Linked DNA regions of Homo sapiens. The protein of the gene in region 1 interacts with the protein of each later gene in a pairwise test. Each region holds a gene or a part of one and is shown on either strand. Other genes may lie near its edges.

The links.
Region 2: the proteins of SLC25A38 (region 1) and ZSCAN16 interact in a two-hybrid assay, tested with the Homo sapiens proteins (one large-scale study listed by BioGRID and IntAct).

Annotation. Positions count from the first base shown.
Region 1 is NC_000003.12:39,387,338-39,390,178, forward strand, and holds part of SLC25A38 (mitochondrial glycine transporter), read left to right. Parts: exon of another isoform or gene 1-505; coding exon of another isoform or gene 506-528; exon of another isoform or gene 529-2,024; coding exon of another isoform or gene 2,025-2,052; intron 2,053-2,157; coding exon 2,158-2,279; intron 2,280-2,841. UniProt on the Homo sapiens protein: Mitochondrial glycine transporter that imports glycine into the mitochondrial matrix.
Region 2 is NC_000006.12:28,122,806-28,126,732, forward strand, and holds the start of ZSCAN16 (zinc finger and SCAN domain-containing protein 16), read left to right. Parts: upstream 1-1,803; 5' UTR 1,804-1,872; intron 1,873-2,441; exon of another isoform or gene 2,442-2,607; 5' UTR 2,608-2,638; coding exon 2,639-3,025; intron 3,026-3,927. UniProt on the Homo sapiens protein: May be involved in transcriptional regulation.

The DNA.
Region 1 (2,841 bases):
ATGCCTCGCCCAGTGCTACTCTGGGAGCAGAGTGGAGGGTGGGTTGGCATAGTTGAGGCTGGAGACTGCTGCAGAGGTCATTAGGATGGATCAGTGGAGGCCAGACTGGGAAGATTGAGGGCTTGGTCAGTGGGACTTGGTCATGTAGCAGCAGGCATGGTGAGTTTTATGTGTCTCTGAGGTTTCCAACCTGGATTCCTGGAGTATCCCAGTGTGGATTGGAGAAGAGGCAAGTGTGTGGAGAACTGTTGACCAAGTTTCCATTTTGGACATGTTGAATTTGAGATGCCTGTGGGCCATTTGAGGGAAGACAAGGAGACATTAGCAGAGTCTGGGGAGAGGCCAGCCTGGGCTGGAGATGTGGGCATTACCAGCATGTGTGTGAAGCCTGGATATGGGTGAGGTTACTCTGAAAGGAGATAAGAGGAGCAGTCCTATGTGAAGGGCAGGCCAAAGAAGAGAAGGAGAGAGAAACCAGAAACTGTGAGGAGAGGCACTCAGCTATATGGCATGTACCAGAGAGGCCAAGTAAGATAAGGGCAGGGACAGGAACGGGGTCCTGGGGTGCAGCAGGTGCTTGGTGAGCCCTCAGAGGCTGTGTTAGTGGAGGAGATTTAGCTGGATAGCAAACTGGGGGGGCCTGCGGAGGGACTGGCACAGAGCAAGTGGAGATGGTGTAGCGTCAGGCTGGAAAGATGGATGCTTTGGAGCCTGTTGCCTGGCAGAAGAGGAGATGCCAGTGGGAGCGAGAGACCCAGTGTGTGAAGAAGGGGGGCTCATTAATGCCACAAAGTCTTGGGGAGAGACTAGAAACACAGAACTCATGAGAATATTGGTTGGCAGAAGAGCAGGACACCTCTTGGGGAGAGGGAGTTGATGTAGATACAGACTTGCTAAAATACGCACACCTTACTTGGTTTTACCTGTTGTCTTATCAGACCACCCTTTGGTACTTCAGAAGTTATTGCATCGTGGTTGTAAACTCCAGTTTTTAATGACCTTAGTTCCCCCCACCCCCTGCCTCCAACAGTCTTATGAGGAATTCCAGTTATAACTGGCTTCTTTGGTGGAATTTGAGATACACTCTCTTCTCTGTTAAGCAAATACTGCAGATTACAAATATTTCAGTTCCAGGTAAGTAGTTATGTGATGTGTAATGGAAACTTTATATATATTCATCTTAATGTTTTAGGGCCACAATGTGTCATTTATTTAAAAAATAATAGTGCAAATGCCACTTAATAAGGGAAGAGGTCTTTGGGGATGAATTTGCCAAACATTTTTGGAGAAGATAGCTATTTGTTTATTTATTTATTTATTTATTTTAGGGAAGGGGAAGAAGGTCACTGGTTGGATTTTAAGTACCTTTTCACAGTCATTTGTGATACTACTGGGTTCTAGGGGTCTGGAGAAAGGATGCTGTCCTGTAATGATAGCACCAGTGCTGGAAGCTGCAGCTCCTGGAACTAAGGGAGGTATATTTAGTCTTTGAAGGAGTTCCACCCTTCCAGGTGGTGTCTGTAGATTAGCCAGTGTATATGACGGTTCATGGGTTGAAGGAGAAGCAGCAAAGCCAGGGGAGGCTACTGGTCTGTAGGACTGTGTGATCTGCTTAGGGCCCAGTGAGATGGTAAGGGGAAAGTTTTAAATGAAGGAAATACTAGGTTCTACAGGAAGTGGCACTTACATTTTACACAGTGGTTGAGCTTAAGGTTTCATTTGCTTTGGCTTGGTCCTATAAATACCTATAGGTCTTAGAGCGAAGGGAGTCTGCACATCATCAGTTCAAAGTGAAAGCACTGCATTCAATTGACTTTGCTTTTGCAAAGATAGGGAGATGACCAGTAACTTTTTGAGTCAGAACAAATAGGGAAGAGTGGTCAGTGGCATGGAAATAGTTTTGCTCCCACTGAGCAATATGTCTATCAGCAATACGAAGACCAGAGATACCTCTTGCAGCATCCAATGTCCTCAATAACATTGCAGTATTTTTAATTTCTGGCTATACTTTTTCCTTCTCCGAGGTATGAAGAAAACATGAGGCACCACCAGGTAAGTGTCTAAGAGACCATTATAAAGGAATTTGCTGGTCAGGTATAGAGAAAGGTGAGGCTCACACAGGCAGAGCTACTGACACAATATTGTCTTATCCTGCAGTTACATCCGGTGATCAAGGCTTTCCTGTGTGGCTCCATCAGTGGGACCTGCTCTACCCTCCTTTTCCAACCTCTGGATCTCCTTAAAACACGCCTGCAAACCCTCCAGCCCTCAGATCATGGGTAGGCCCTGCATTTCATTGGGGAACTGATTTCAGCAACTTCTCAGACACAGGAACATCTTTACTGTGTTAAGTCAACTTCCATTCTGTTGGATGTTCAGAGAGAAACACAGGCCATGCCCAACTTTCATATGTTCTCTGAATTGTTTTTATATTTGACATTTCTTTTTAATTAAATGGGGTCCGTTCCTGAGCAGCTTCCTGGAATCGGCTCAGTGACATTTACACTTTATTGTGTTAGCTTGTGATGTTATAACTGTATTGCCTGGCATGAGAGTACCAGGGGATTTTCTGGAAATAACATCAGTATTATCTGTTTTTGTTTTTGTTTTATTTGTTTTTTGAGGCAGATGCTCGCTCTGTTGCCCAGATTGGAGTGCAGAGGTGCGATCTCAGCTCACTGCAACCTCTGCCTCCCAGGTTCAAGGGATTCTCCTGCCTCAGCCTCCCAGGTAGCTGGGATTGCAGGTGCTCGCCACCATACCCAGCTAATTTTTGTAATTTTGGTAGAGATGGGGTTTCGCCATGTTGGCCAGGCTGGTCTCAAACTTCTGGCCTCGAGT
Region 2 (3,927 bases), on another chromosome or scaffold:
TTTTCATTCAAATATTTCAATTTTACAAGGCCAGTTTCATTTATCTTTTCCTCCATGGCCTTTTCAGTTTTATGTCTTTAGGGGTTTGTGTTATTCTTAAAAAGGCCCTTCCCACTCCAACTTTCCAACCTGTCTCCCTGCTTCTGCCCTTGCCCAACCCCTTCACATTCAAGTCTACTGTTAACATAGCAGCCAAAATAATAATCTCAATACCCAAGTTTAATCATGTTACTTCTCTACTCAGAAATCTCAAATGAGCCATGCTGGGTAGCTCACACCTGTAGCTCCAGCTACTCAGGAGGCTGAGGCGAGAAGATCACTTGAGCCCAGGAGTTTCAGGCTGCAGTAAGCTATGATCGCACCACTCACTGCACTCCAGTCTGGGTGACAGAGTGAGACCCATCTCCTAAAACAAAGGAAAAGGAAAGAAAAGAGAAAAGAAAATAAACTGAGTAGCTTATCATTTTATCATTTTAGAGTAAAAATACCCTTGCACTCACCCAAGGCTCTCACTATCTCTCCACCCAACGCTCTTTTGCTCACTCAGCTCCAGAAAAACAAGCACCCTTCCTTTGCCCAAAATACTTAAAACACACTCCACTCCAGGCTTTTGCATTTGTTATCCCTCTCCCTGAAACATCTTTATCCCTGATGGCCCATTCCCTCAGCTCCCTCAATCTTTGCTCAAATGTCAATTTCCTAGTCAGGTCCTCCATGAATATCCTATTTAAATTGCATCACTTCATTCTCACCCCAAATTCCCTATTTCCTTTATTTTCTCCTTAGAACTGATATCCACTCTCTATACACTATGTATATTTTTTGGTTTATTGCCTGCCTCCCCAGCACACACACACACACACACACACATACACACACACACAAGATTATAAATTCCATGAAAGGAAGGGCATTGTTTTGCTCAAAATTAGTTCCAGCTTCCACAATAGTGCCTGGCATAGTAGATAAATCAATATTTGTGTAAGAAAGGAGAAGAGGGAGTAAAAAACTAAGAGCATTTTTCACCCATCAATTTGGCAAAGATCAAAATATTTTATAACACTGTGTTGACAAGTATAGGTAAATAAGAATACTGCTAGTAGATCCTATGATTGGTGATTTGGCATTAACAAAAGTACAAATTTCCCTATTCTATGCTGTAGTAATTCCCTTTCTAGACATACAGACTATGGATATATCCTTACACATGAAAAATGATGTGAGTTCACAGTAAGTTATTGCAGCAATGTTTGAAAAAGAAGAATTGGAAACAACCTCATGACCACCAATGGGGTACTTATTAACAAATTATAGAACATAATACACAGTTGAATACCGTGCAGTTGTTTAAAAAAGAGCAAGATCAAGGAAACACTTATGTACAGCCTTTACCAAGACCACCTGGTAAAAAGAAAAATAAGAAAGGTACAGAAGTGCTACTATTTGTGCAGAGGGGAAAAAGCGCGGACAATCTATAACGGTGTAATATATCTACGGAAGGATATACAAGTCACGAAAAATATTGTCAAACTAGACGCTGGGGGACATTTACTCTTTTTAATAAATGTATGTGAATGCATTACTTATCCATATTACTCAATAATTAAACCGAAAAACGTTTTAAAGAAGTACAAATAAGACTTGCTCGCAGATCCCGCAATCCCATCAATACGAGGCGTAAAAGCCGGGTCCTCCACTGGCTAGGGCCGAGGAGGCAAGCACTCAAGCTGCCACAGAGGCGAAGCTTCCTAGAGCGGCCCGGAAGTGCCCGGCTGAAGCGGCCGGGCGCCGATTGGTGTCTTTGAGTCTAGTCTTTGTTCGGGGCTGTCCAAAGGACGCTAGCTGTTGCACCTGTTCCTCCCTGCGCGTAAGGTGAGTGTCTCCCGGCTCCCAGGTGGAGAAAAGGGGACAAGACGCAGCTGTGGTCAGCAGCAACACCCTCCCCACACCTCCCTGTCGCGGGCAGAGTGTAACACTCCTGTCCCTCCCTCCGCCCCCCAACAGATCTACAGGAGAGGATTTGGCCCAGCCTTCCGGGAGAGGATGGGTGGAAGGGGGACACTGGTTGCGGGTTCCTCTGCAGAGGCATCTGTCTGATCCCCTTCCAGGGTTGGCACACATATCCTATAACCAGTGAATCCTGGGGGCACAAGCTGGCCCGTGCATCTCATGGTAACAGAATGAAGAGCCTTTTAACAAAGCCGTTAATAATACTTGGCGTTTATTTAGTGCTTACTAGTGCCCGCTGCCATGCCAGGGACGTTGCATACGTTCTCATGTAATCTGTATATCAACCCTGTAACACACATGAGAATTGTACCTGAGGATCTGTAGTTCTAGTCCAGATAAATAACTTCCTCTAAGTTACACAATAGAGCACAGATTCAAATCATATCCCTGCGTCACTGTTTTTTGTTTTGTTTTGTTTTGTTTTGTTTCAGCTTCCTATAAGACTGTTTTCTCTGATTGACTTCTGGTGGCTTGGCTTCATTATGATGTGTTTATGTTCACAGAAATTTTTGTAATTTCTCTATGGTAACAACTTTTTATGCCTTAGGAGTGTCTCTGAGGCAGGATTCTAAGAGATTCTCTTTGACTCAATCCCAGATAGAGGATAAATCTCCTGGCAAAGCCCAGAATGACCACAGCCCTGGAACCTGAGGACCAAAAAGGACTTCTGATAATTAAGGCAGAGGACCATTACTGGGGACAGGATTCCAGCTCACAAAAGTGCAGTCCTCACAGGAGGGAACTCTATAGACAACACTTCAGGAAGCTCTGCTATCAGGATGCACCTGGACCCCGTGAAGCTCTTACCCAGCTGTGGGAGCTCTGCCGTCAGTGGCTGAGGCCAGAATGCCACACCAAGGAGCAGATTTTAGACCTGCTGGTGCTAGAACAGTTCCTGAGCATTCTTCCTAAAGACCTGCAAGCATGGGTGCGTGCACACCATCCAGAGACTGGAGAGGAGGCAGTGACGGTACTGGAGGATCTGGAGAGAGAGCTTGATGAACCTGGAAAGCAGGTGTGAAGGGGCAGTCATCTGGCTGTGAGTGATCAGGGGATATGGATGGAGCCAAAGCAAAAGGCATATGAAAGAACATCTGAAAATATTTATCCTCTAAAGAACAAGGCATAGGAAGGGACCTGACTACCTATGTCAAATAATTAAAGTGTGGCTGGGTAAAGAGAGGAGAGTCACTAGACTGATTCTATGCCTGTTTGGAAGGCTAGGATCAGTGGGAAGTTACCAAAAGGCAATCAGGTATCAGAGGAAAAGAAATAATTTTCTGCCATTCATAGATACCCATAAATAAAATAGGCTACCCCATAAGAAACTCCCTTTCCATATAGGTATTCAAGCGGAGATTCAAGTAGATGTCAAGGATATTGCAGAATAGGACTGTCCAACAGAAATATAATGCAAGCTGTATATGTATTTAAATTTTCTAGTAGCCACATTAAAAAAAAAGGTGAAATATATATTTTATTTAGCCCACAATATTTAATCATGTAATCAATATTTTTAATGAGGTATTTTAGATATCTGTGCTTTAAATTTTCAAAATTTGGTATGTATCTTACATTTAGCTTATCTCATTTGTACTAGCCATATTTTAAGTACTCAGTAACCACATTTTGCTAGTGACTACCATATCGGATAGCATGGTTATAGAAGAAATGCTCCCATTTGCTGGAAGTTGGGCTAGATGATTTTTAAGCTACCTTCCAAATCCCAGTGCTCTGATCCTGGACTTCTGCAGATCAATGAAAGAAGAGACGTTGAATTTTACTCTCTAGTGTCCTGAATTGTAGAGATTAGCCTCTGTTCCTTCTCCTAGCCATTATTGCCATTTACAATGAAATGAGAATTTGTCCCCCCTTTCTATGTCCCTGGAAGATGTTTCATTTGATTGTTTTATCTGA